Linked DNA regions of Homo sapiens. The protein of the gene in region 1 interacts with the protein of each later gene in a pairwise test. Each region holds a gene or a part of one and is shown on either strand. Other genes may lie near its edges. The genes, in order: CNTLN, RFK and C18orf54.

The links.
Region 2: the proteins of CNTLN (region 1) and RFK interact in binary tests that used the Homo sapiens proteins (3 or more experiments, as listed by UniProt).
Region 3: the proteins of CNTLN (region 1) and C18orf54 interact in binary tests that used the Homo sapiens proteins (3 or more experiments, as listed by UniProt).

Annotation. Positions count from the first base shown.
Region 1 is NC_000009.12:17,458,784-17,468,882, forward strand, and holds part of CNTLN (centlein), read left to right. Parts: intron 1-4,132; coding exon 4,133-4,230; intron 4,231-5,713; coding exon 5,714-5,840; intron 5,841-7,197; coding exon 7,198-7,335; intron 7,336-7,922; coding exon 7,923-8,108; intron 8,109-8,439; coding exon of another isoform or gene 8,440-8,541; exon of another isoform or gene 8,542-10,099. UniProt on the Homo sapiens protein: Required for centrosome cohesion and recruitment of CEP68 to centrosomes.
Region 2 is NC_000009.12:76,383,494-76,392,993, reverse strand, and holds the end of RFK (riboflavin kinase), read left to right. Parts: intron 1-424; coding exon 425-576; intron 577-4,337; coding exon 4,338-4,440; intron 4,441-5,464; coding exon 5,465-5,595; 3' UTR 5,596-7,468; downstream 7,469-9,500. UniProt on the Homo sapiens protein: Catalyzes the phosphorylation of riboflavin (vitamin B2) to form flavin-mononucleotide (FMN), hence rate-limiting enzyme in the synthesis of FAD. Essential for TNF-induced reactive oxygen species (ROS) production.
Region 3 is NC_000018.10:54,351,222-54,362,083, forward strand, and holds the start of C18orf54 (lung adenoma susceptibility protein 2), read left to right. Parts: upstream 1-6,684; 5' UTR 6,685-6,854; exon of another isoform or gene 6,855-7,552; 5' UTR 7,553-7,649; intron 7,650-7,664; exon of another isoform or gene 7,665-9,020; intron 9,021-9,305; 5' UTR 9,306-9,351; coding exon 9,352-9,634; intron 9,635-10,421; coding exon 10,422-10,862. Other genes in the region: STARD6 (stAR-related lipid transfer protein 6), read right to left, coding at 2,833-2,915, 3,263-3,352. UniProt on the Homo sapiens protein: Might play a role in cell proliferation.

The DNA.
Region 1 (10,099 bases):
TGTGTATAACTTGGGTCAGTCACAACATTTTATAATCTTAAATAACTTATAAAATATTAGAAATGTGAAGGAAGAAGTGTTGTGCAATTTCGGGGCATGAATCCTAAAATGTGTCTCTGAAAATGTGGGATAAAATGTGTAAACTGAACATTTCAGTGTTAAGGTTTCATATAGAGAAGATAAAATCATTGAGCTATTCCTTGATCTTATCTATCACATAGACTTTAATTCTTACTTCTGTGATTCTTCATATATTTAAGTCCTCATGATTCTGATATAACTTTGTTTTTCACCAAGATAAAATAGAGTGCTAGGTCCAGTATTGTCTAATCTGACTTCTAAAAGACATAAATAGTTTTAAGTTGATTTATACATAAATCATAATTTATAATTTTTACATAAACAGTTTTTAGTTGATTTATATTTTACTTATTTTACTTACTACAAATGGTCTAATAATTTTTGGTAATAATAGATCCATATGAGTGTCTGTAAGTTCTTTGCATTATGGTTTTCCATGGTATAAGTTTTTACCCCACATACAAATCTCTCTCTTGCTTTGGAGGAATGTGTGAGTCAGAAAGAGAACTAAAGCAATTAGTGTGAAGTGATTGTCCATAATCTAACATAGAGTCTTGGAACACTGACCAAACTGTATAGGGACAAAAAGGATAAGTTTTTACTTTTGTCTTGTTTCATGTTTTCACATAGAAATTTCCTAGAAGACCAAGTACCTTTAAGTACATAATATTGTCTACTACTAAAAATTTTTGTTTTGATGCTGGTTTGTAGAGATTCCGTAACAAAATACCACAGACTGGTTATCTTAAATAGCAAACGTATATATTATTCTCACAGTTCTGAAGGCTGGAAGTCTAAGATCAAGGTGTCAACAGTTTTCATTTCTTTTGAGGCCTCTCTCCTTGGTTTGTAGATGGCTGTCTTCTGCCTGTGTCTTTACATGGTCTTCCTTCTATGTGTCTGTGTCCTAATTTCCCTTTTTATAAAGGCACCACTCAGACTGAATTAGATTCCACCCTAATAACCTCATTTTACCTGAATTATCTGTTTAAAGGCCTTATCTCCAAATACAGTCACATTCTAAAGTACTGAGGGTTCGGTGAGAACTTCTACATACTAATTTGTTTAGGGGAAACAGAATTTAGCACATAACAGATATCAAACTGCTAATATAGTGATTTTCTAATAAGTAGCTTATTTTCTACTTAATGTTTTTAGACTTAATTGAGAAAATTGGCTAGATTCGAATATACTAAAAGTTTATATACATCTTTTCTATACTATCCAGTTAATATTAGACTTTTCTGTGTAATTTTACATATACTTTTCTGATGTCTCTGGTTCATTTACAGTTGAGAAAACTGAGACACAGAAAGAATAAGTTACTTGTCCGAGATCACACAAGTACTGTACATAGAGCCGAGATGAGAACTCAAACCATCTGGCTCCATAGTCCATGCTCCTAATTACTATACTATGCAAATTTTAAAAAAATATTCAATAAACTTAGTATAGGAAAGCTGTAACAGGGATGACTTTTTACCATTGTGACATTTTTGATGTGTGTGTTTCACATCATACATCAAAGGATGTATTACAAGGAAATTACCAGATTTTAAGTTATGTTACAGATATATATTGTATAGTAGGGAATGGAAAAGGGACAAAGGAGCTGGGTTTCGATCACTTTTTGGCCATTAACTTCTCGTCAACCTGGTCAAGGAAATTACTTAACTTCTCTAGAGGTCTAAAGCAGGGATACCTTTCTACCCATCTGATAAAAATTTTTGAGGATCAAATGAAATAGCTGTTAGATTTAGAGATCTTGGCCAAAGTGTATCTCAACCTGGCATTGTTTTATTTATTATAAATTGCTTTTCTCTCAATTCTCCAAGTCAGAGTTAACAGCATTTTCAGCCACATAATACAGCCTTAAGTCTAAAAACAGAAAAGAATCAACTAGTTATCTTAATATCTACTTAACTCATTGCATTGAAGATACTGTCAGGCTTTATTTACTGCCTGTATCTTTTATTTTAAATACAATTCTAAGTTTATTTTACTTCTCAGCAGAAAACACCTTCAGTGCAGCACACTAGAAGTATGCGTATTAAGGGGTAGGATGATTGTTTTTAGGCAGGAATAATGACACAGAAGCAAAAAATTACAAACAAAAGATTGACAGAGAAAAAAAGGCAATATGAAAATGTTAAGGTAAATACAAAATTAGAAAAGCACAGTCTGGGACCATTTAGAGGAGCGATAAGTAGACGTTTATATCACAGTAGTCCCTAAAGCCATCACTATATTATAGTATAGTGATAATATAATACATATTAGTATATCATATATAATTTATAGTGATAATATTTATGATATGATATCACTATATTAACATATCACTATTAGCTTAGCATAATCATGGGTGTCCGTATTTCTAACTGAATGAACAATCATCAGAGAAAGAATTGAAAATTAATGATTGAAGCAAACGCTTCAATTATTTGATAAATTGACTAGTGTGACTAGTGTGGAACATGTTATTCAGGCAGTGCTGGAAATAAGACACAATACATCACTGTAAACGTGCAAAATATGGTAGAAATTTTGATTACATTACACACACATTTGATCAAAACATAACATTCAAAAGAGTTACCATGTTGAGGTAGCTTTGGGTTTTTAAGAAAAATTAATGTTTCATGTAAAAATTAAAATTATTTCAAATGTTTTATTTGTATGTTATACCCATGAGATATTTAAAGTCAGTCTGATGAATTACATTTACCTTGGGTAATTAATAGTTTAATCTTTTCAAATTCAAATTATTTTTAGCATGAGTCAAACATCCAAACCTAGGAATAGTTCTAATAGAAAAAATTTATTGTAGTTTAGAAATATTAGCTAAATAACTACTCCAAATATTTTAAAAGCTATTATATTTTATTATATTTATATTCATTTAATACCTTTAAAACTTAACAAATGGATTAATGTGAGTATGTCAACACTATCTTGAGTGTGGAAAAACTAAATACCAAAAAGACTAAGTGATGTCTTAGATTACACATTTAGTTGGAACTAGAGTCAAAATTGAAAGGTGTTCTAACACTCTAGTTACCACCTCTGGTTCCTAGGCTCTACTGACAACAAATACCACAGAACAAACATGTTTTGCTTTGAAAAACTAATAATTATTTACAAATAATGTAATAAGTAGCATTATTAATAACTTCAAGTAAAGAAGGATTGAGTATTCATGAGGTTTTCTATCAGTTACCATTATTCTCTAACAAACTATCCCGAAACATCGTGGCTTAAAACAACAGTTTATTATTTCTTAAGATTTTGTGGGTTGACTGGGAAGTTCTTTTGCTGGTCTCTTCTGGGCTACCTCATATCCCTGGATTTTTTCAAACCAAAGATTTCCCTAGTTGGAAGATACAAAATAGCCTCACTCATAGATCGGACAATTGGTCTACTACCTGTCAGCTGGAGTACCTTGGTACACTTCCACATGATACATCAACTGTATTCCTAGCAAGGTGATCCTGGAGCAGCATTCCAAGAAGGGAAAGAGAGAAGCCACAAAGCTTTAAGGCCTGGGAACTGAAATTTACACAATTCATTTCTGCTGCATTCTTTTCGACAAAGCAAGTCACAAGCCAGACTACGTTCAGTGGGTTAGGAAATGGATTCCCCTGCTTGATGAGCAGCAAAGCATTTGTGACCATATTTCGTCTAAGATGTTAGTAAATCCAGTATTTGTTTTAAGTGATCTTCTTAAATCATTAAAATTCTTAATTATTCACATATTTACATTATACCAGGACAACTCATATTTCCTGTAAATGTATTTTGGATACATACTCTTTGCAATTCTTAAATGATTGTGTTCCTCTATAGTTTGGCATGTTATATAAAAGTTTTAGTATTATTATTTCTATTACAGCATATAAAATAAAGCATTTAAAATATTAAAATATTCATTTTAATTATTGTTTACCATAATTATTGTAGAGGTATTCTTCTTTAGAATGGCACTTATTTTTATGCTGCCTTAGACCAAGGTTGTAAGGTATATTTAAATTTATTTCTATTTTTAATCTAGAATGCTACTAATGAACTCACTAAACAGTCATCAAATGTGAAGACTTTGAAATTTGAACTCCTAGCAAAAGAAGAACACATAAAGGAAATGCATGAAAAGTATGGTTTTTGTATTTCTATCCATTGTATTTGGTGCCACCTAGTGGCAACCAGCTCTATTAAACGTGCTCCAAGAAACTGCTAATGTTTACGTTTTCCTTCCCTAGTTCATATTTAAACCTACCTAAGATGAAAGTTTAAGGAATACTATGTATAGCATGATTAATGGCAAGCTATTTACTTTTTTAAATTAGATAATGATGAAGTTAAATTTCCGTTATTAAACATATTTAATTTTGAATAAATACAAATTAATGGCTTCGAGACAATGAATGAAAAACTTTACAACGTGGTGGTTATTTGGCCCCCCAAATATATGATTAGTATTTGTATTGGATTTAATGCCTAAGCTTATAAAGCTAAGGTAAAAAAAGGAAAGTTTTGTTTGTGTTTAAAATAACTGGAGGTTATGGAAGTTTGTACTCTTGTGTTTATCAGTACAAAGATTTTAAATGCTCTATCCCACTGAATCAAAATTATTTTCTTTCTGTATCTTTCAAAGCTACACTATTGCTTAGAAATAGTAAGATGTTTAGATAGAATTCCAGTTGTCACTGATACATTTGAGATATATGTATCTCACAAACACACCTGTAGACCTCATTATAAGTGAAGAGCACTTAAAAGTGATATGAATAGATAAAAGCATTAGACAAAAAGCTTGGTTAATTTTTTAACTGATAATATTTTGAAGTTTATTTATCAATTAAGAGTAAGTCTTGCTTATTGTTTAACAGGGCTCTAGATTAACACTCTTTGAATCCTGGCTTCCCTACCTACTAGGCCTATGCCTAAATTTAATAATATTAAATTAGGTTCTTACGAGGAATAAATGAGTTAATACATGTAAAGCACTTATAACAGTGACTGGAACATTGTAAGCCTTCGATACATGTTAGCTATTGTCATTCTTGTTTTAGTAGTAGCAGCAGCAGCAGCAGCAGTAGCAGTGGTTCTCACAGCATCTACCATTTTATACTTAATAGTTCATCAACTTATGCTAAACAGCTGTGTGGATTGAATCTCAAATTATATTAAATTAGAAGATATTATGGCTAATTTAGTTTCATTACAAGAGTTTGCATTTGTTTATTGAAGTATAAGATTTTTTTCTTATCATTTTTATGCTTTTGATTATCTTCATATATCACTTTGATTTTTCACAGCAATGTAAAAATGTAATTTAAATGAAATAGTTCTAAGTTTTCATAAGTGTTATTAATTTTTCTCATTTCTTATATATTTTGTTTTAATACATATATGTAATTATATAATTACCAAGTCACAACTATAGATTTTACAAGTGTTCAAAATATTAAAAGAACAATATCTTATGCAGTGCAATTCATTTTACTGATTTACAGTGTCAATATCACGTAGCATTTAAAAAGTAACAGTAGGTATAATATTGGATAAAATGTAAGATATCACCACTGTTAAGGTATTTTCTGTCACTCTTGATGTCACCTTTTTTTTTTTCAAGGATATCTCGAATGGAGAGGGATATAACTATGAAAAGACATTTGATAGAGGACTTGAAATTTCGACAGAAAGTAAATTTGGAAAGTAACAAGAGTTTTAGTGAAATGTTACAAAATCTTGATAAAAAGGTATCAATTTTTATCTTTACTGACACTAAAAATATCACTTCCTGTTGTAATTACTCTCTTACCACAAACATTTAATCCTAATAAATGTATAGAAAATATTGATAGGATATGTATTTACTGTTACAAAGTAACACTCTTTGCTCTGAAAGTACATTATTTATTTTAAAATTCAATTCTCTAAAACCTCATACATAATATGGCCACACATTCTGTTTCTATTTATAAATATCCCATGAGAAGATTAAAAATCCTCAATATTTCTAGGATACATAATTACATTTTATTCAGTATTTTATTTAAAACTGTAATTTATGATAGAATCAAGCTTATATTTCTTAGTGAAAACTTGATTACCTATAACTATCAGAAGTTCTTTAAAAATGTACTTTCTTCTTGGATACCCTTAATGAATTTTACATGGGAATGGAGTTGTACATGCAAAGGGAGTTGTAGTTAAAGTAGTTACGTAATATATGACCCAAAGTAGAAGGGTTTTTTTTGTTTTTTTTTTTTTGAAGGTGCTTTTTTCACAACTCATAAAGCACCCTGTGCTTTGGCATTCACTAAATGTTATCCACACCTGAGAGAACATCTCCTTTACTTTCCTTGTTGAAAATGAAAATTTAAGTATCTCTTAGGTCAAATTGATTTAAGAAAGAAACTTTTACATGAGCATGACAAATCCATATGGATTTTCTTTCTCTTCTCTTCCACACATCTGTGCAAGTTAAAATCACTTCCTATAGGCTTTTTCAATGTTATCCTTTCAATTTTGCTATTTTTTAACTTCAATAATAATTTCATACATAGCCTTGGAATCTTTATATAAATAACATATATCTTTAGTGGCATTAAACTGAAAAACTATTTTTTCTGTTATGCTTTGAGTTACATACACATATTATAATCTTATAAATAAGCTATATATATATATAAAATATCCTATTGTTTTATTTCATCCAAAAAAAGGTATGTAATAGTTATTTTAGAGAATACAATGGAAAGTTACCTTTAACTTGGCTTGTTTCAGAGTCAAAACAATCATCTCCTGCCTTAGGAAGTTTAGATTAGTAATTAATGGATATGTAGTGAACATTAATATTGTGTTATTGGGTGCAAGAATAAACATACCAGTATTCATTTAGTTTGTGTGCAATTTTAGTTTTTGTTACTGATTTAAGGATTGTTACTTTCATTCATAATATGAGTTCTGTAAGTATAATACTTGAATTTGATAGCGTTATGAGAAAATAAATGGAAGTAGACTCATTCACTCATTTAGTTTCTGTTGGAACAAACACAGTATATTACTAGAATGCCTTCAACAATAATAATTACCTTTATGCTTTTAATGTAGGTAAAGACATTAACTGAAGAATGTTCCAACAAGAAGGTATCAATTGATTCACTAAAGCAAAGACTTAACGTTGCTGTAAAAGAAAAGTCACAGTATGAACAGATGTATCAGAAATCTAAAGAGGAGTTAGAAAAAAAGGTATGCTTTTAAAAAGGGCATTTTAGATTACAGATGGAATATAATCGTGTTTGTTTCATTTTTAACATTGTTGCTTTTTCCTTCCCAAAACCACAAGCTACTTAAACACTTCAGATAAGTGCAAAGAGGATTTGTATCTCTACATGAAACGCCAAACATTGGTTTAACATTAAAGATATTTCTGTATTAGAGAAAACAGGTTGTGTTTGTCTTGATAGTTTTTAAGAAATGAAAACTATTATTGAACACTGGTATTTATACAAGTAGATCTAAATTTTGTAGGCCCACTTAAACTTTCAAACTAAATGTTTCCATGTTATGTGGAGGATCTTTTGGTCTAAAATAGCTTCCATGCTTTTAATTATTTGTAATCTTTAAAAATCATAAACTAATTTAGATGATAAGTATATGAGAATATGTACTTAGGATGTTTTATTGAAAGTTAATGAAAATAATCATTAATTTTACCCAAATAATAAATACATAGAGAGAATAATAAAATATTTTCCTTATTTGACATGTATAACTAACTCTTCCAAATCTGTTTATAAAATATCTTTTATTTTATGACTGCTGATCTTTTGCAGGATCTCAAGCTTACTCTCCTAGTATCAAGAATAAGTGAGACTGAATCTGCAATGGCAGAAATTGAAACAGCAGCATCTAAGCAGCTTCAAGAATTAGCATTGCAAAGTGAACAGGTCCTAGAAGGTGCACAGAAGACATTGCTGTTAGCCAATGAAAAAGTAGAAGAGTTCACCACATTTGTGAAGGTTTGAATTACTTGTCGTTTACTAACTTGTACTTTACTTTAGGCAGATAGGCAGTAGCCTACTTGAGATGATTTGGGGAATAAAGTTTCTTTCTGCTTTCCTAACACAGAAAGCATCTTCTTCTACCCTATTTATCACATTGCTAATAATTCCTCCATAAAGAATTTATTTTTATAGTTTGAATTTAAAATTTTCTACCATCTTATTAATATTTCTTTCTTAATGTCAATTTAGTTATGAAATTGTAGTAGTCAAGTCATCTGGACAGGTTTTAAGTTGAAAGAATTAAGCTGTTCCCACCCTACTCTCCTTTTGAAAATCGTTCAAGCAGGAACAACCAGAAACTTGCTCAGTGTTCAGTGATGCTAAGAGACATCTGAATCCCAGGCCACAAACTATCAAGACATGGAATAGACAGAGGAATGGCACATGACAAACAGAACAAAGAGAAGACAAACTCAAGTATCTGCAGAGGTGTACCATCTAGAAATTATCTAAAAGCTGAAGAGCCCTAGAAAGCCTTCATTCCCCTAGACATAGAAGTTAATAACATTTTATGCCACTATTGAGTACTCCACGAAGAGGAAATTCCTTACTTTGCTTCTTTGGAAATCATAGATACCTTGGGAGTTTTCTCATTTTAAAAATATCTGCAAAATGAATTGATAAAACATTTTATCTCCTTTATCTCTTTTAATGAATATTTCAACTGGTGTGAAGTCAAGCCAATAATGCCTGCCTCTGAGGATCCTAAATGATTGCAAAGTATTAATTTTAGTAAATGTAATTTACCTTTTCCAGATTCAAAACACTATTTTTTGTAAATGCTTGTTGAATAGTTTCACTGTTTAACTTATAGTGAACACTTTCATTAAATATTGTGACTTATACCCTGCTGGTGGGAATGTAAATTAGTTCAGCCACTGTGGAAAGCAGTTTGGAAATTCTCAAAAAGTGAAAAACAGAACTACCATTTGACCCAGCAATCCCATTATTGGGTACATAACCAAAATAATATAAATCCTTCTACCATAAAGACACATGCATGCGTATGTTCATTGCGGCACTGTTAACAATAGCAAAGATATGGAAGCAACCTAAATGCCCATAAACAATAGACTGGATTAAGAAATTGTAGTACATACACACCATAGGATACTACACAGCCATAGAAAAGAATGAGATCAAGTCCTTTGCAGCAACTTGAATGGAGCTGGAGGCCATTATCCTAAGTGAACTAACACACAAAGGAAAAACCAACACCACATGTTCTCACTTATAAGTGGAACCTAAACATTGAGTACACATGGACACAAAGAAGGCAACAATAGACATCGGGGCCTACTTGAGGGTGAGGGTGGGAGGAGGATGAGAACTGAAAAACTACCTATTGGGTACTATGTTTATTACCTGGGTGATGAAATAGTATGTACATGAAACCCCTGCAACACAAAATTTATCTACAGAACCAACCTGCACATGTATCCCTGAAACTAAAATTAAAGTTATATATATATATAGTCATTATTTTACTCATGATGTAGAACCATTTTTATTATGAGTATTACCTTCATAAATCTTGGTTTTTGTTTTATATTCAACTTAGCATTTTGTTTGTGGAGCTTTTGGCTAAGATATAAAATATGAAATATATAATTATGAGATTTATTCAAAATGCTAATCATTGTTTTTCCTTGAAACATTCTTTGAATGTGGCACTTTAAAAAAGAAGGATGAATGAGAATCAGAAGTTTTCAAAATAGAAAAATTAATTTCATGACTGTATATCTGATTATCATATACTTGAAGTTTCATGACTTCCATGATAAGGTAATGGGTATATTTCTCCATACAAAGTAGTTCAGCAAAAATTATCTTTAAGAAACTTTTTCTTTATATCCAATGATATAAATAGTATTTAATGATGAAGTGGGTATCTAAACTCTAATTATTCAAGGGTAATGTTAGTCCTTCATATTGTTCAGCAACAG
Region 2 (9,500 bases), about 59 Mb from region 1:
CAGGCAAAGTTGTAGGAGTCTTGTGAATGTAATGATTTACATTAGCCTTGCATGTGATTTTTACAAATGTTTGTTTCTTATTATTATTTTGAGACAGAATCTGGCTCTGCCACTCAGGCTGGAGTGCAGTGGTAGTGCGATCATAGCTTACTGCAGCCTCCATCTGCTGGGCTCAACTGACCCTCCTGCCTCAGCCTCTCTGGTAGCTTAGACTATAGGTGCAGGCCACCATCCCCAGCTAATTTTTTAATAGAGGTAAGATCTCACTATGTTACCCGGGCCGGTCTCAAACCCCAGAGCTCAACATGAGCCTCCTGCCTTGGCCTCTCAAAGTCCTAGAATTACAGACATGAGCCACTGCACTCGGCTACAGGCATTTAATACGAAATTTGTAAGACTCAAAATATTTTCTTCTGTTGTTTAGCTAATTTTCCTGAGCAAGTGGTAGATAATCTTCCAGCTGATATATCCACTGGTATTTACTATGGTTGGGCCAGTGTTGGAAGTGGAGATGTCCATAAGATGGTGGTGAGCATAGGATGGAACCCATATTACAAGAATACGAAGAAGTCTATGGTAAGCATTATATTTTGCTCTGTAACCGAAAATGGTATGATGACTTAGAATAATATATTACAGTATTCGTTACAGAAATAGCTTATCAGTGGTAATCACAACGTAGTTCAAATACTGGAATTTTGGGCAATCTCTGTCTTTTAATTGGAGAGTTTAATTCATTTACATTTAAAGTAATTTCTGATAAGGAGGGACATCTACTGTTTTGCTATTTGTTTTTTATATGCCTTATAACTTTTATGTCCCTCATTTCCTCTATTACTGCCTTTTGTGGTAGTGTGCTTTTTGTTTTGTTTTGTTTTGTAGTGACATTTTAATTCCTTTCTCATTGCTTTCTGTGTATTTCTATAGATACTGTCTTTGTGGTTACCATGGGGTTTATATTTAACATCCTGAAATTCTAAAAGTTTAATTTGAGTTTATACCAACTTAATTTCAATAGCATACAGAACTCAGAAATTGCATCTTTTTTTTTTTTTTTAAAGATGGGGTCTCACTATGTTGCCCAGACTGAAGTGCAGTAGCTGTTCACAGGCCAGGTTGTAGCACACTGTAGCTTCAAACTCATGGGCTCAAGTAATCCTCCTCCAGCCTCCAGAGAGCTGGGACTATAGGTACATGCCACTGCCTGCATCTGGCTCAGATTACATCCTTATACATTGTGGTACCCAATAACAAAGATTAATAATTGGTTTTTTTATGCATTTATTTTTTAAATTATGTAGAAAATAAAGAGTGGAGTTACAAACCAAAATTATAATACTGACTTTGATAATTGCTGTCTGTGAAAGACTCACTTGACCAAAGATAAAAATGATTTAAAAGCCTGTTTCATAAAATTGAGCTTGCCACAATTAATGCACTTCATTCACCATTTACTTCATGCATCAATTGCGCTTGGTCACCCTCTTAAGATAAAACAGTTTACTACATGGATGGTGGATGGAGGATGGTGCTTATTGATACAGTCCCACATTGGTGCTTTTCTCTTTCCTTTTTAAACCACCTGAGGGTATACTTTTCTGCCCTACTCTTTACAGGACCCCACAACTTCAGTGTTTTATCTGTTAGATTTGGCTGAATCTTTTGTCAGCTCAAATGTGTGGCAAAAACAAATTACAGTGAAGCTAAATTTTGTTCTGTGTGGAGTTAATAGAAGTGAAGTGTGTCACTGCTGGAAAACTACAGAGCTAAATGCTGGCGTAAGCAATAGTAATGACGCAGAAGTACTTAACATTTTGCTCAGTATTTCAGTTATTTTTCAGTATTAATGATTTGAAAATTATTTTTTGGAGACAAGGAAAACAATCGAAAGATCACAAAATACCATTCTGTTGAATGAGGAAGGAAAAGAAGGGGAGGGGACAATAGCCCATAACTAATTTGTCTTTAGCTACTTAGATAACAAAAATGTTATTATACAGCCAGTTAAGGAATGCCTTTTGAGTGTTAGGAAAAATTGAATTTGAAACATAGGCATATCTTACCAGTGGAAAATTGAACTTTTGCTTGCCTTTGCCAGTAACACACATCTGTGAAGTGCCTGTGCCAGACCTTTGTCCTTTAAAAAAAAAAAAAGCGTTATCTTACTGACCTTAAATAAGTTCTTAGTAACACATCTAGATCCACTTCCTTTGTTGGAACTGTGTATTGTTGTATTACAAATTTCTTTCATTGTGTGTGTGTGTGTGGTTTTTTTTTTTTTTTTCTCAATGGTGTGTTGAAGAACAGAGTTTTGTTTTGTTTTGTATTTTCAGATAGGGTCTTGCTCTGTCACCCAGGCTGCAGTGCAGTGGTGCAATCTCAGCTCACTGCAGCCTCAACTTTCTGGGCTGAAGTGATCCTCCCATCACAGCCTCCCGAGTAGCTAGGACCACAGGCATGTGCCACCATGCTTGGCTATTTTTAAATTTTTTTATAGAGATGAGATTTCAGCATGTTACACAGACTGGTCTCAAACTTTTGGGCTCAAGCAGTCCTCCTGCCTCAGCCTCCCAAAGTGCCAGGATTACAGGCATGAGCATGGCACCCAGCCCAGAGGTTCTTAATTTTAATACAATCCAGTTCAATATTTTTTTTATAGTTAGTGCTTTATATAATCTGTTTCAGAAATCTTTGACTACTCCAAAGTCATGAAGATACTTGTCTGTGGTTTTTTTCTAAAAGTTTAATTGACTGACATATCTTCAAATTGACTTTTTTAGTATGGTATCTGATAGGGATTTAAATTAATATTTTTTTCCATATGGATGTAGAATTGACCCAGCCTATTCATTGAAAATACCATGCTTTCACAACAGTGCTGTAGTGTCACCTGGGACATAAATCAAGTGACCTTATATGTGTGTGAGTCCAAAAATTCACATACATACTTGGTTTGCTTGTCTTATCATAGGTCTTGATACCTAGTTGTATAAGCCCTCTAGTTTTGTTCTCAAGATTTTCATGAATAATTTTGGTTTTTCCATATAAATTTTAGAATCACTTGTCAGTTTCTCCTATTTTAAAAAACCTGCTAGGATTTTGATTGGGGCAGCATTGAATTCGTAGATTACTTTGGGAAGTTTGCCATTTCTCTCAATAATGTCTTGTAATTGTCAGTGTCAGGGTCTTACATATTTTTTAAAATTATTTTTAAATTTTTTTTTGAGATGGAGTCTTCGCTCTGTCGCCAAGGCTAGAGTGCTGGAGTGCAGTGGTGTGATCTTGGCTCACTGCAACCTCCGCCTCCTGGGTTTGAGCAATTCTCCTGCCTCAGCCTCCTGAGTAGCTGGGACTATAGGCATGCGCCACCATGCCCAGCTAATTTTTGTGTTTTTAGTAGAGTACCGGGTTCCACCATGTTGGCCAAGCTGGTCTTGAACTCTTGACCTCAAGTGATCCTCCTGGCTCCGCCTCCCAAAGTGCTGGGATTACAGGCATGAACTACTGCACCCAACCAGTCTTACATATCTTAGTTTCTTTTTTATTATTCAAATGTTTACTGAAAAGAAAGAATATATTGGTTCATAGCCCCAAAGTCATGGGGCACTTTATGTATCTTCTAACTCAAGCCGCCCCCCACCCATTACAGACGAGAAAACTGAGCCCCGCGGAAGCTAGTTATACAGTTAACCAAGTGTGGGAACCCAGACTTTTGACTCTAAGTCAGTGCTCTTAACCTCTTAACCACAGTACTGCCCAGATGATTTAGCTGAACTAGATTCTGAGGCACTTTCTACGTCATGCGGCATTTTGCTTTAATGTGCTGTGTACCCTTTTGCCACTTTACTCCCTGATCAGGAAGCTGCATTGGCTCTCCTGCCCCTTCAGTCCTCAGCTCTGCCAAACTCTGAAGTTTCCATACATGTTGTGTGTCAGACGTGTGCAAATGCTGACTGACCTTAACAACTAGTTGTTTAGTAGTAACATCTTTTAATACTTTGCTCATTCCCTCTTTGGTGTCCTGTTTTCTCACCTTGATAAGATACTTACTTCCTTGGATACGTGTCAGTTTTTTTGTTATTGTTTGTTTGTTTGTTTTTAAGTAACAGCAAATCATGCCAGACACTGTCACCTCACTCAGTTAGGTTTATAAGATCCAAACAGGAGTGCTGGGAAAATTTAGGAAAAACTGCACTTAGATTTTAACCTGAATCTTTAAAAGTTTAAGGAGTGTTGATTGTTTCATTTAAATTAACTCACCATAAACATGAAGATGTATTTCAGATTTCAGTACACTGTAGTCTGATAGCACTCTTTGTAACATTTCTTGACTATAGGAAACACATATCATGCATACCTTCAAAGAGGACTTCTATGGGGAAATCCTCAATGTGGCCATTGTTGGCTACCTGAGACCAGAAAAGAACTTTGATTCTTTAGGTAAGTTCTTATTTTGATCTTCTTAAATACTACTACTGCTACCACAGGTAACTCTACCACTACTACCAGTAATAATGATGGCAGGACAGATAATATTTGAGCATTTAATATATGCCAGGCACCGTTTTAAGTGCTTTACGTGAATCTATCTTCTTTCACCTGTGAGGGATTATTTTGCCTATTTCTCAGATGAGGAAATGGCACAGAGAGATTAAGTAACATTCTCAAAGTCACATAGTAAATAACGGAGTCTAGCTTTGAACCTAGCAGGCTGGCTGCTTCTCTCCAGCGGTATGAAGTTAATGAAATCTTTCAAAATGTGTGAAGTTTGAGATATAGTAAATCAGAGAACATTTGAAACATGTTACCAGGTATGTATTAGTGTAGTGTGATAGTTTTAACTCTGTTATAAAGTTTCTTTTACAAGTGTAAATACCAACCAAAAATAATAGTGAATGCTTTTTTCCTCCATTTGATATTTGCAGTGTACATTTATGCCTATGCCTTTCTCTTAAAATATAAGATTAGGGACATACCTTTGTTTGTTTGTTTGTTTGAGACAGAGTTTTGCTCTTTGTTACCCAGGCTGGAGTGCAGTGACGCCCCCTCTCACCGCAACCTCCACCTCCCAGGTTCAAGCGATTCTCCTGCCTCAGCTTCCTGAGTAGCTGGGATTACAGGCACCCACCATCACACCCCGCTAATTTTTGTAGTTTTAGTAGAGTCAGGTTTCACCATGCTGGCCAGGCTGGTCTCGAACTCCGGACTTCAGGTGATCTGCCCGCCTCAGCTTCCCAAAGTGCTGGGATTACAGGCATGAGCCACTGCCCCCGGCCTAGGGACATATCTTTTGTGTACCATTGACTTAGGCCTGGAAGGAGTGATGGAACAAACATTTATTGGGTATCTACCCTGTGCAGAGATACTGCCAGCCTGTGAGTTTTTAGGATTGGCTAAACAGAGTAGTAGTAAAAAGTATGTTAATGGTTTTTCATCATTTTTACCTGGTATATTCTCTCTGCAGAGTCACTTATTTCAGCAATTCAAGGTGATATTGAAGAAGCTAAGAAACGACTAGAGTTACCAGAACATTTGAAAATCAAAGAAGACAATTTCTTCCAGGTTTCTAAAAGCAAAATAATGAATGGCCACTGATGAAAAATTGTATTATTTATTCATTCACTGTTTTCTAGTGTTTCTGTGTTTATTACTGTTCAGCATCATCTTGGTTATATACTGAAAATCAAACACTTTACTACAGTTGTGAATTAGTTTAAACCGTACAATGTTGTTATCATATCATGCTTCAACTATTAAATTAAGCCCATCATATCATAGCACTAAAAAGATTGAGTTAAAAATAAGATTTAAAAAATATATATTGATTAAAATGTACCACTAGAAAGGTATTACATGTGTATAAGTATGGGTAAAAAGGCAAGTCACTAGTTTGAGATGAAAACTAAAATTTTCATGGTAAAATGCCAGCATGTATGTACTTGTGTAGTGTGTACTTCTAAACAGAGAAGGCTTATAAAAGTAAATGCATTAAGGCCAAGTGCAGTGGCTCACACCGGTAATCCCAGCACTTTGGGAGGCCGAGGTGGGAGGATTGCTTGAGCTCATGAGTTCAAGACCAGCCTGGGCAACATAGCGAGACTCCATCTCTATAAATAAAAAAAAAGGAAATGCATTAAATAGAAGGTTGATAGTTTATCATAAACCTGCGGGGAAGAAACTCAGACTTTCTATTTTTGATATTTTGTGCATTAATACATTACAAACATGAAGATGTTTGTAAAGTTTTGTTTTAGTCATTTTCTTTGCAGTCACATCATTGTACCACCTTCATTATTGTATAGAGCTGCTTCAATTCTGAGTCCTCTGGACTTCCCCTGCCTATCTGTTTGTTGTTGTTGTTGAAGACAGTAAAATAAGTGTTTTCAAATCTATATGTCTCCTTTTTGTTGGATAATGTTTCTTCTTTTTAATGGTAAATATTCTTGTTCTTCAACATTTTTCTTTGGTTCTTTTTTCCTTTTTTAGGAAAAACAAAACAACAGACTTCATCCTTAGGTTTTCTCAAGATTTAAGTGAACACATTTACACATATCAATTTCTTAAAGAACACAAAATGTTTCCTCCCTAGCAAAACTATTTAAGAGCCAATTAAACTATGAAATAGTTATAAAATTATTTTTAATATTTAAGGCCTTGAAATTATATTCCAAGGCAAATCTAAATGGGTGTAGTTGTATATGCACGATGTAATTTAATGCTAAAGAGTACTTACAGCTTGAGGGAAAAGCATAAAGTTTTAGTTAAATAGCCTTCATACTGTGGATTTTTCCTCCTACTAACTAATATGTGGGAAATTAAGATTACAGATGCTTTGGGCCCCCTCAAACAGTACATTGCTACAGTTCACTGTAGCAACAGATTTGGTGGTGATGGGGGGATAGAGGTAGAAGCAGATAGAAGGTAATTTTAAAGTTAATTTATTATGAATCATTTTCCCCTAATCTGCATAAATGAATTAGAACTGATTTTAATAAAAATATTCTGTGTAAAAAGTACTCAGAAAAACATCTAAAGCTGTTGGAGAAGAGGGACTCATATAAATAGTTGGATTGCGTTTTGCTTTTTATTTCTTTATAAAAATATGTCAAAAACAGTTTTTAATTTTAGAAATCTTATACTTGAAAGAAACCTCAATTATCAGTGGCTTTATGAAGTAAAGTTAAAAACAAACATAGGAAATGTGAAAATATTTGTGTTTGTTTTGTCTGACTAACTTGCTGCTAAATGCTATCTTTAGGTGTGTGAAAGTTCTTTGATATGTTATTGTCCTTTTACATCTTGTTAAATAGCCATTGCTTTTGAGAATCAGATAGTGTGTTGTTTAGGGGTTAATTGTGTCTATATCTTTCAAAAACTTTTATATTATGTATTATAAGAAGTTACAGTAGTACCATTTTGATTAGTCTGAATGTTTTCAGGCCTTGAAATAAATTTTGACTAAGTGATATTTTTTCTTTCCCTGTGTCAGCTTGAATCTTACTTTATGTATTTCGAATTTGTTGGCTGATTGCTACTCTTAAGTGTGTGAAGTTGCCTGAAGAGCAAGATATAGGTGGCAGCTGTAGTTCTACAACAAAGGGCCTTGCCTTCAGGATCCCCTGTGTTTTATGCCTGCAACACAGTGACTGAGGTTTATTTGGAGAGCAATCACAGGGCATCACTACTAAAGTCCACTTCCTGAGAGTAAGGGTTCCTGTTACATTTTGGAGATAGAAGAGCCAGAAGAGTATAGATAGGTCTGGGTTCCCTTGCATAACTCCTGCCCCAAAACAGAGTTCTGTAACCTTCTTGTCTTTTGCCACCAACCCCATAAGCAGCAACTTAGAACTCGTTTGCCTTTCTCTGTTGCATGCTGGTACTCTTTGAACAGTCATCCCCAGAACTCTCATCTTCCTCAACTATGGAGGCTTACAGCCTGCAGTTAGAGCTTACCATGAAACATGATTCTGATTGGGAGATGGAAGTGGAAGTCTGGTCTTCAGAGATGGAGCCAAGAAACTAACCTATTCTGCCAAAAAAGATGCCAGAAACAAATTGTAAAATAAGCTCTACAGAGATGGCAGATCCAGGGTTATCAGATATAGAATTTGAAATGACTGTTTAATATGTGTAATGAAGTAAAAGAGTAACAAAAATGGTAAAATGGCAAGGTGTTGTATAAAAATTGGGCAGCTGGGTGCTGTGGCATGTGCCTATAATCCTAGCTATTTGGGAGGCTGAAGCAGGAGGATTACTTGAGGCCAGAAATTCAAGGCTGTAGTGTGCTGTTATGGGTACTTGTAAGTAGCCACTGCACTCCAGCCTGGGCAACATAGTAAGATCCTGTCTCTATTAACATTTAAAGTAAAGTAAAAATTGGGCAGATAATTGAGAATTGTCCGAAATATATAGTTATAAAGAAAAATTGAAATTAAAAAGTCAATGGATGGGTTAAATACATATTAAACAACAAGAGAATTGGTGAACTATGAGACTTAAGTCTGTGACTGTGCTGTCAGCTCCAAATTCACCATTGATACTCTGATGTCGCTGTGACTCTACATTTCTTTGACAATTGGCTTCCTTTTAGGTCAGGTCATAAATGGAATTTGAACCCCAGGTTGTCATTTCTCAGGCAGCTCAGTAAGTCCCTGGACCTACCCTGTGCTTATTTTTTGTTCCCACGTGTATATTTGAGATAGACATACTTGACTATTGACAGAATTTCCACTTAGCTTCCCTGACCATTACAAGTGCCAAGTAGAAGCCAGGATAGTAAACCACAACAATGCTACATCTCCAGGAAAATTGGAGAGGTCATCATCAAAAATCCTGAAAGATTAGCTGGGTGTGGTGTGGTGGGCCTATGGTTCCAGCTATTCGGTAAACTGAGCTGGGAGAATAGCTTGAGCTCCTGAGTTCAAGACTGCAGTATGCTCTAATCATGCCCATGAATAGCCACTGCACTCCAGTTTGGACAACAAAGGGAGACCCTGTCTCAAAAAAAAAAAAAAAAAAAAAAAAAAAAAGCTGAAAGTTTGAGGATAGAGGCTGCTATTATATCTGTTTAGCCTGCACAGAAATTTGCTAAATCTTGGAGAATGACTATTATCAGCTAATCAAGTGATGATTTCAATTGCAGCTATTGTCTGCGATATGTAAAAGTATCAGCAAATGTCTAAGGACTGCTACAAAGAACATTCTGAACACAATGCAATGGAGAAAGAAATTAGGCATAAAAATACAAAAATGTCACAATGTAAAGCTATTTTGTAATGAATGATAATATGTGACAAACATTTGTAGAATGCAGCTAACACTTAAAAGATTTATAGTTTTAAATACTATTAGACAAAGAAGATTGAAGATGAGTCATGATCTAAGCTTTCATCTCAAAAAGCTAGAAAAAGAACAGTAAAAGAAACCAGACACCTCACAAAAACACGTATGTGTATAAATTTCAAGAACAGGCAAAAATCATCTACAGCTGGGGTCCCCAA
Region 3 (10,862 bases), on another chromosome or scaffold:
TTCTTTTTTTGCAGTGGTTGAAAAAGGGGTTGAATTCTTTATTTCATTCTCAGCTTGGTCACTGTTGCTGCATAGCAGTGCTACTGATTTGTGTACACTGACTTTATCCTGAAACTTTATTCACTTATCAGATCTAGGAACTTTTTGGATGAGTCATTAGGGTTTTATAGGTATACAATCATATCACTGATCAACAGTGACAGTCTGTCTTCCTCTTTACCCATCTGCATGATTGCTCTGGCTAGGACTTCCAGTACTATGTTGAATAGAAGTGGTGAAAATGGGCATCCTTTTCCCGTTCCAGTTTTTAGGAGGAATGCTTTCAACTTTTCCCTGTTCAGCATAATGTTGGCTGTGGGTTTGTTATAGATGGCTTTTACTTCTTTGAGGTAAGTTCCTTCTATGCCTATTTTGTTGAGGGTTTTAGTCAAAAAGAGATGCTGGATTTTGTCCAGTGCTTTTTCTGCATCTATTGAGATGATCAAAATTTTTGTTTTTAATTTTGGTTATGTGATCTATCACATTTATTGACTTGGGTATGTTAAACCATCCCCACATCCTGGGTATGAAATGCATTTGATCATGGTATATATTATCTTTTTGATATACTGTTGGATTAGGTTAGCTAGTATTTTGTTGAGGATTTTTGCATTTGTGTTAATCAGGGATATTGGTCCGTTTTTTTTTTTTTTTTTTTTTTAATGTCCTTTACTGGTTTTGTTATTAGGGTGATACTGGCCTCATAGAATGGAGGATTCCTTCTTTCTCTATCTTTTGGAATAGTTTCAGTAAGATCATACCAATTTTCTTTGAATGTCTGATAAAATTCAGCTGTGAATCCATCTCGTTCTGGACTTTTTTGTTGGCAATTTAAAAAATTATTGTTTCAATCTTGCTACTTGTTTTTGTTTTTTTTTTTCAGATTTTCTATTTCTTCCTGATTTAATCTAGGAGGGTTGTATTTTTTCCCAGAATTTATCGATCTCCTCTAGATTTTCTAGCTTGTGCATGTAAACGTGTTCACAGTAGCCCTGAATGATCTTTTTGTATTTCTGTGGTATTGGCTGTAATATCTCCCATTTCATTGCTAATTGAGTTTATTTGGATCTTCTCTCCTTTTCTTGGTTAATCTTACTAATGGTCTGCCATTTTTTTCTTTTCAAAGAACTAGCCTGTGGTCCCAGCTACTTGAGAATCTTGCCAACAACAATGTGAGTGAGTTTGGAGCATAGCCTCCTTCAGTTGAGTCTTCAGATGAGACCTAAGCCCTGTTGACACCTTGATTACAGCCTTGTGGATTCCTTGAGGCAGAGGCACCTAGCAAAGCTGTTCCTGGATTCCTAATCCAGAGAAGCCATAAGATAATAAATGTTTAAGTAGCTAAGTTATGGGATAATTTGTTGTGCACCAATAAATACCTAGTATACAGTGCATATAAATTTCACTCAAACTGTGAGTGCAAAAAGTACCAATTGTTTAGTTTTGCATGTAAGAGTAAAATATCTCTGATGAAAATTTCCAGTAAAGCTTTAGAACAGCTTAACAGAACCTATTCTTTGGCTCTAGGCATTTGTATAGCACTCTCTAAATAAATACTCAATAATTACTTGTAGACTAAATAAATAACTTCCAAGCTTTTAAAAAATGCCAAGGTTGCTGTCTACACTGGTCTGATCTGTAAGATACCAAAAAGCCAAATTATCCAAAAGTTAATTCCCCTAGTGTACCTAGGCTTGACCATACCCACTCCTCCCTGTTTATTTTTGAAAGTGCCTGTATTAGAACCATTATTTCAATAAGGTAGGGATTATTTTCCTGATCATTGTTAAAGTGAGTGGGAGAAAGCATATCAGCTTTGTCCAATGGTAAAAAATTGGGCTGAAATATAATATAGGTAAATTTTATTGAAATTTTAAAAAAGCAAGAAACATAAAATGAGGTAGTTGAAAGAAGGAGTGGACTCCAAAAGAAAAGGAATTGAATAAAATTTGATGATCTGATGGCCCTGATGTACTATCATGAGCAATAAATGAACTCTGAAAGATTAAGCTAAAAAAAGTCAATATACTTTCCCTTAGTGTACTTGTATTTGAAATAATTTTATCCTTAAAAGTATATTTAAAAGAAGCATACAGAAAAAAATGCATATTTAAAATGAGGAAGTAGGCTGGGCACAGTGGCTCACACCTGTAATCCCAGCACTTTGGGAAGCCAAGACAGGCAGATCGCTTGGGCTCAGGAGTTTGAGACTGGCCTGGGCAACCCCATCTCTACAAAAACATATAAAAATTAGTCAGGTGTGGTGGTGTGCACCTGTAGTCCCAGTTATTCAGGAGGCCGAGGCGGAAGGACTGCTTGAGCCCAGAAGGCACAGGTTGCAGTGAGCTGAGATTGTGCCACTGCACTCCAGCCTGGTGACAGAGCAAGACCCTGTCTCAAGAAAATAAAATAAAATGAAGAAATACACTTTACTTGTTAGTGGTTCATTTAATGGACACATGAAGGGTTTAAAATTCCATAAAATATTACTGTTAGCAAGAAAATACCAATCTGCTTTTATAGTAATTATTTCTTGAAGTGAAAATTTCCTATTTAGTGAATTAGTAATTAGAAGAGATTTTTTATCTGATTGTCATCAGATTTGAAAATAGAAGATTAGATGGTATCTGATTGCTGTATTTTATTATTATCACATTTCTGCCTAGTGACTTAATAATTTCTATTTATTACTATAAAATAATTTATTATAGCTAATGAAGCAGCACTGAAATTCCAGATACATCAATGGCATTGAATTTAAAACAGTAATTGTAAATAGAAGATTGTACTCACAGATTTCCATGGAATTTTCTAGAAGCCTTACTGGAAACAGTTATCTTTTTCTCAAAGGGGAATAAAAATCCACAAATAATTAGCTGTCAAATGCAGGAAAAATGAAAATGAAAAACTAACAAAAGTAAAAACACTTTTTTTTCTGGTTTGTAAAAGAAAAAAATATATATATATATTTTTCAGAGACAGGGTCTCACTATGTTGCCCAGTCTGTAGTGTACTGGCTATTCACAGGCACAATCATGGTGCATGACAGCCTCAAACTCCTGTGCTCAAGCAGTCCTCCTGTGTTAGCCTCCTGAGTAGCTGGGACTATAGGTGCACACCACTGCACCTGGAACAGAAAATATTTTTTTAAAAAAGTCTTTACAATGAATTGTTTCTTACTTAAAAACAAAGTCTTGAAACATAATTTAACTTATTTTCTTACTGAAGTTTTAACCACTTTCCAGCCTGATGTATCTCGATTATAACCTAAAACTTCTTGGGCAGTTTGTTGGGCAATTGCCTTGAAGTCCATCTATCTGCAAGTTTTAAAAACAAACAACTGGTAAGAATATAACCATATAAAAACTTAAAAAGTGCTATCTTACATTTTAATATTATTTCTATAATGCCTGTCACATAGAAATGAACATAATTACTTGATGAATGCATGTATGCATGAACCCCTCTCTCCTTACAGTCTTTCAAATGAGAAACTGTGGTATAGTGGAAAAATCTAGACTTTGAAATCAGAAACCTGGGTCATATCTTGTCTCTGCCACCTATTGTGTGAAGCATGTTACTTAATATTTCTGTTTTTCCATTTCTCTCAAGGTAAAATTAGGATAATATATGTCTTGTAGAATTAGCGTGAGGATTAGATGAGATGATATGCTTAAGGTTCTATCCAGTGCCTGGCATGCGATAGTCATTCAATAAATAATTTTAATTTCTAACAGTTTAATCACACGTCCTTTGTCTTGTGAAGCATTATGAGCTGTTGGTTATGTGTTCTTGAGGATTATTTAAAGTGCGTAGCAGTGGCACTACACGATCTGACCCCTGGCTTCCTCTTCAAATATACCTCCTACCAGTCTTCTTCTTGTCCACTTAGCTCCAATCATTTGATCTCCTGGCTGTTCCTCACATACAATAAAGCAATTTCTGACTTCAGGTTCTTTGTACTTGCTGTTCCTTCTGCTTGTCACTGTCTTCTGCAATGTGTTCATATAACTGACTGTTTCATAGGTATCTTTGCTTAAATGTCACCTCCTCAGATAGGATCAAGTTTAAATCAACTCAATTTAAACACATTGAACCCTGCTTGAAGTTAGAAACTGCAATGGACTGAATGTTTATGTCTCCCTAAAATTCATATGTTGAAATCCTAACTCCCAGGGTGATATTAGGAGATGATTAGGTCATGAGGGCAAAGCCCTTATGAATGGGATTAGTGCCCTCACAAAAGAGACCCCAGGGAGCTCAATGGCCCCTTCTTCCATGTGAGGACACTGCCAGAAGTTAGCAGTCTGCAACCAGAAGAGGGCCCTCACCAGAACCTAACCATGCTGGCACCCAGATCTCAGACTTCCAGGATCCAGAACTCTGAGAAATAAATTTATTGTTTACAAGTCATTCAGTCTTTGGTAATTTCTTATGGCAGCCCAAAAGGACTGAGACAGGCACTGTGGTAGATGTAGCAACAACAGTTGAGTAAGATACTAGACATAACTATTACTGCTGTGAATGAGTTCCGGAAGCTGCAGTCTCACTGGTCCTTCGGGTCATCATCCAGCTTTCAGTTAGGGGAAGCTGGCAGGTAAGGTGAAAACAGAACTGGATTCAAATCCTGACTTTGTCACTTAGTACAGCTATATTATTTTGGATAAATTGCTTAACCTTTGAACTTCAACTTCCATATCTATAGAATGGGGATAATAATATCTATCTCACCGAATCATTATAAGGATTAGTTGAGTTAATATATGTAAAAATGCTTTAAACAGTGTGGAGCCCTATACTAGGTTATCAAAATAGTTAGTTTCTCTTTAAAAAAATGGACACATATAAATCCATCATTTAAAAAACTCTCCAAAGATCTGCTTCCTTAAGCACTTAAATAAACCTTCTTAAAGTTTAATTATTGGAACATTTCTTCCTTAGCTCTCACTTAAAACTCTTCAGGTTGGATCATAAATCTATTTTCTCTTATTTAATTCTCCAGCAAGGCACAACAGGTAGTTGATAGTCTCTATATTTGAAAAGTTTTAGTAAACCATTATTATAACCTCCTCTTTCCTAGCAGAGTCCTGGTTTCTTTACCTTTCCTGACAGATCTAATGCAGAATTTTAGTAACTACTGGGGCTCCTCTCCAAATCCTTGTGGAAATCTCCATATCTCTTAACCTGTGAGGAAACAAGGCAGAAGTAGAATTATTTTGATCCATGAATTAGGTCAATATATTTGATAATTTTCTTTATATCTTCTCAGTGTCCTTTATCTATACTTTGTCTTCATTAGGAAACATTTGCTACATATATGCCCCAAGATGAAAGAAAAATATAGTACAAAAAACTTTAAAAGATACTGTTTATAAAAAGAATCTTTAAGAAACTATTTTAAAGGAACTCAGTTTAAAAAGACACTTAGGTGGAACGTGGATACAAAAATTTAAGTTTTTAAGCTTACGTCACTAACAATTAACAAGGATTGTTAATCCCCGACCAGGGCTCGTCTTAGCATATAAAACACCGTTCTTGATTTCCTATTGGAAACCTACTTGATATTAATTGATCTAGAGACTTTGAAGATTATTGGGACATACCACTAGCAGGGTATGTCTTATTTTCAAATCACCAACTATTACTGCCACAATAGACCTGTGTTTAACCACTAAACTGAACGTTATAGCTTCCGGACTTTTTCATTTGCTAAGAGAAAAGGGAAGGTAAAATTTAGTAGGCTACAAAGGGTAAAAAGAAGAAAGTGCAAACAGTAAGACTACAATTGTATTACATGGTGGTGGAACGTCGGATGAGCTGGAACATATTCAGATGGACTCATGGTCAAGGATATCTTCACTCATAGGGTCAGTGGAAAATAAACATAAACCAACATTGGGATGGCCTCTTTTTTTGATACACCAATTGGTTGAAACTGGATTCCTTCCAGACTTACAGACAGGTTCACACATGTTAGTGAGTCTTTACATCTGTTTGTACAATGACCCTCTTTCTGAGCTGCCTGACTGGGTCCCCAATCCGTGCGGGGTCACTGCCATTCTTCCCTGGGAATCAAGGCTTCCTAGGAGTTTGTTAAATCCCATCCCTGGCTAAACTCGGGTCTCCAATCTCCCATCTGCTTTGTGTGTGAGAGGCTCCGGGGTGTGAGAGGAAAGGCACTGAAGAGGGAGTGAAAGAAGTGGTGAGGGGGGACTGCCTACTAGCTGAGACGATATCTTATTTTTGGCGGGGGATGCTCTGGAAGCGGGGAGGCTGAACTCACTTGGAAAAACTGGAGCTGTGGGGCAGACTCTCAGCGACCGGAACGACAGCCGCCAGCGCCCTTAAGTCTCCCTCCCCACCCAGTCCCCTCCCGCAGACCCCGGGGCCGGCTGAAGGGAGATCAGCAAGTCCCCGCGCAAACTGGCCGAGAATAGCTGTGACGGAGGTTGGAAGGGCGTGGGGGGCAGCGACTTGGATGCAGCCCACATCCCCCCATTCCCAGCCCCAGAAAGGAGGGAGAAACAGCACCTTCCAGCAGGGGTCGCGACCTAACGCTCAACAGCATCCTCTCTTCTCCGGCCGCTCCCTCATCTCCGCTCGCGCCCGGCGCCCCACTGCCGCGCATGCGCACCGCAGGCCGGCGCCATGTTGGGGCGGTTTGAAAGCGAGCGCGGGTGTCGAGCTCTGCTGTGACTGCGGAGGAAGCTGCGAGTGAGCCGAGCCTGAGGCGGGGCGGTGTCCGGGTTGGGGATGCTTTGTGGTGTCTCGCGTTGGGTAACAGGCCTGAGCTTTCGGCGGAGAGCTGTGGAAGTGTGCGGTTTTTGTTTTTGTTTTCCTTTATTTTTATTTTGGGGCCTTAGGGGTGAGTTAGGACGGAAAGGAGGGTGTCTTTTCGAGGGTTGTCCCATCCTGTGACAGCCGAGAAAAGGCGAAAGGAGAGTGGCGAGGAAAGAGGAGGAGACGTCTCCTGAGGGAGGGCGCTTGTGGAGTCTCTGTGGAAGGAAGAACACTGTAGGGGGAGTGCCCCCTGGGCGAGGGAGGGTCGCGGGACGCGGCGGAGGGGGCTCACACGGGCGTCTGCGGACCTGAGGCGGCGACAGGAAGGGGCTTGCGCTCTGGGGCTGTCGCTTCGGAACACTTCTCCTTCAGTCCATTGCTGCGCTCGCCCTGGCTGCTGAATAAATGGTTTCGGAGTGAAAAGCATCTCACTGAAGAACTTGTCTGTGTCTGTGACTGACGGGCGGTGGAACACCAAAGGGAGGGTGTCGCCTGATTGGGACTGGAAAAATTGGAATTCAGGGCGCCCGGGGTAGGGGAACGATGCGCACTGCTGGAGACGGGCGACCTTCGCTGGCCGGTCGGTGGGTTCCTGGTTTTCTGCTGCCGAGTAAACAAACGTTCCCTTTCCTAACTTAGCAGTCACAGAGCTATTTCCAAGAGTTGTTCTTAATTTCCTGTGCGATATTCCCATTGGCTATTTAACACTGAACATTCTGTTTTTGAATCAAAGTTAGTTAAAATTTGTTGTCAATAAGTTTAACATTCTGTTCTTCCGCGTGATGGATTTTCTTTTGGAGATTCGAACTGAAGCCTGTACGGAGGAAATGGTAAGATATATGGGATTTGCATGAGATATGTGGGGTTCAAAATAATCCTGTGGCTGAAGTGGGGAGAAGTGGGTGGGTCCCTACCCACTTTAGCTACAATTGGGGTCTGTTCAGCGATTGTTGGAAGCAGGATGATGAGTACATAGGGGTTTATTGAACGATTCTACTTTTGTATACTCTTTTGGGGAAAAGTTGGAAAACTTTTCATAATGAAACTTAAATTGTGCATTTTCTTTTTGTCTGTCCTGTGAGTTGAAATAACTAGTAAATGTTATCACCCACTTACGGAGACCAATACAACAGCTTTCTCTTTCAAGGTTTTGTAAAATAAAATCAGTAGCCTGTTCGGCATTCAAAGACAGAAAACATTTGGTCAGGCTTATCCAAACAAATTTACTTGAGTGAGTTTAAACTTCTTTAAATAAAAGGGATACGAAAAAGGTAAAGCTGGCTTAGTTTAGCCATTCGTCAGAGATATACCAGTATTACAGAATTCAGATAAATCAATGAGACGAAACAACTGTTACCTTATGTTCTGCCATTTGCACTGACCACGGTCAGATCTCTTGTAATGGCCATTGCATGCTCTAACGCTGTGGTAGGATGATGTTTTACTTTGTCTCTTATTTAATTAGAAAACTTTCGATGTTTTAAAGCCAAATTTAATAGTTACTAAGATTACATTAAAAGTTGTTATAACAAATATTTCTAAAATTATAGCCAAAAATTAAACATTATAACATCATAGCATATGTTAAGTCCTCAACATTAATACTTTTTTAGTATAGGAAATCCATTCATTTAATTTTAAAAAGAATGTCATCATGGACTGAATTAGTGCCGGTTCGTTCTGTGATTTCTTAGGTTTTCAAATATACATCCTGTTACTGTACTGAGGTAGACAGGGATTCTCTCAATTTTAATAATGGAAAAACAGAAGAACACATTGAGTTGATTTTCACATTATTTAAGCTTCCTTTGAAAGAGGTGAGCTGAATCCATTTAACATAAGAATTGAAAATAGGGAGGGTGGTACCAAAAACGAAGGTCAGGAAATGATTAACTATTTTAGGAAAAGTGTATATTGCTAACTCATTCCAGAATAAGACCTGCAGTTTATTTACAGTTAAATGTTGTAAATGTACTAGCATTTATAACATTGAAAGTGAATATTCTCCATTGTTCTTGTTTTGAATACTTCATTTGATGGCTTTAAAAAATTTATTGAGCGCTATTATCTGCAGCACATGGTAGTAGGCTTATGATTTGAAAAATATGATGTATAGGGGAATATTAGGTATTGTGATGTCATAGAATATATCACCATAAGAGAAAAGAGGTTCATAAGTAGTTTTTAGGACTTTTTAAGAAGTGAGTACTCTCTCCTTGGTATTTTCCATGTATATTCTCAGATAATTTTTGTATACATACTTCCAGCCACATAGTAGGTACTCAAAAAATGTTTTCTAAATCATTGATGAAGGAATTCACAATAATAAATATAACAAAAATCTACAATTCCTAACAAGGAGTGTCTGTTATAGATAATGGATTTTATTATTTAAAGAAAATTACAAAAGGTTTACATATTTAGTAATTTTGTTTGTGTATGGTCACTTTTAATTGGCATCTTAACATTTCGTTTTTGTATTACAGTTGTTTTTAAGGGAAATGAATAGAAACAATCCACTTTGAAGAAGCCATGGCGAAATCAAAGACAAAACATAGACTTTGTTCTCAGGAATCTTCAGTATCTGCCCTGCTGGCAAGCTGCACCCTGAGTGGTAGTAATTCCTCTAATTCTGATGGCTCGTTTCACTATAAAGATAAGCTGTACAGATCTGCTTCTCAAGCTCTACAGGCTTATATTGATGATTTTGATCTAGGCCAAATATATCCTGGTGCAAGCACTGGAAAAATTAACATTGATGAGGATTTTACTAATATGTCACAGTTCTGCAACTATATTTACAAACCAAACAATGGTATGCTTTTATTCTTTGTTTTCTTTGTGTTCAGATGTTTTGAAGCATTTGGGAGATGTACTGTAGTATTGTAAAGTTTGACATTATTTTTGTTACTTTGGAGTAAAAATAACATAATATTGAGATCTGGGTGTTTTTGTAAAATGATTATATAATTCTCTGTGGAACAGTAATATTCACAAGATGTTAAGAGTTTGTCCATAATAAAGCTTCCTTGAAGACAAGTTTGGAAAATGCAGTTGTTGATAAGTCAATTACTACTTTACTTAACACTTGCAGAATGACCCTAGAATAGAAAAAGTTTGTATTCAGTTCTTGGAGGGATGTGGTCAATATATTCCGGAAGCAAAGAATGAGAACAGCTGTTCTCTATGTATAATCCATGCCATTGAAGGGTTTGTAGGTGAGAAAACAAGTTATTTTTCCACCTAGTTTAATAGCATATTTTTTTCTATGCTGCAACCAATATTGAGTGACCAATGTTACTGTGATTGTATTAGTGTATCAGATATGTCTAGATGATGAAAGTTGAAGGAACAGTAAATTAGAGAACACAGGAAAATTCAGGAGGTTGGAGAGAAACGTAGAAATTAACACAGAACGAAGAATCGTGAGAAAAAAAGCACATCCTGTTTTATCCACCTACACCTTTTTATGCTTTTAATCAAAGCTTTAGTGAGGATAAGGGGAAAGCAGCAAAATGCCTCTTAAATTCTTAATTCTCATTTACTGTTGGATATTATAAAATATTTGTATGTAATAAACAAAACTGTTCTTCGTTTTTCAGCTTTTGAAAACCTTGATCACAAAAAGCACTCAAACTTCATATCCTGTAGAAGACACACCGTTAATGACATAGACTCCATGAGCCTAACAACTGATGATCTATTAAGACTCCCAGCAGATGGATCATTTTCTTATACTTATGTTGGACCGAGTCACCGAACGAGCAAGAAAAACAAGAAATGCCGTGGAAGACTGGGTTCATTGGACATTGAGAAGAATCCACATTTTCAAGGACCCTACACTTCCATGGGCAAGGATAACTTTGTTACTCCTGTTATACGCTCAAATATAAATGGAAAGCAATGTGGTAGGCTGAAAAACCCAAAACTTATGAATAGGACTAATAATTGCATTTCTGAATCATCTTTGTCTTTTCCCAAGAAATCGTCTTTCAAGGACAGTTCAGAACACAGTCTTGAAAAGAATTACCCAAGATGGCTCA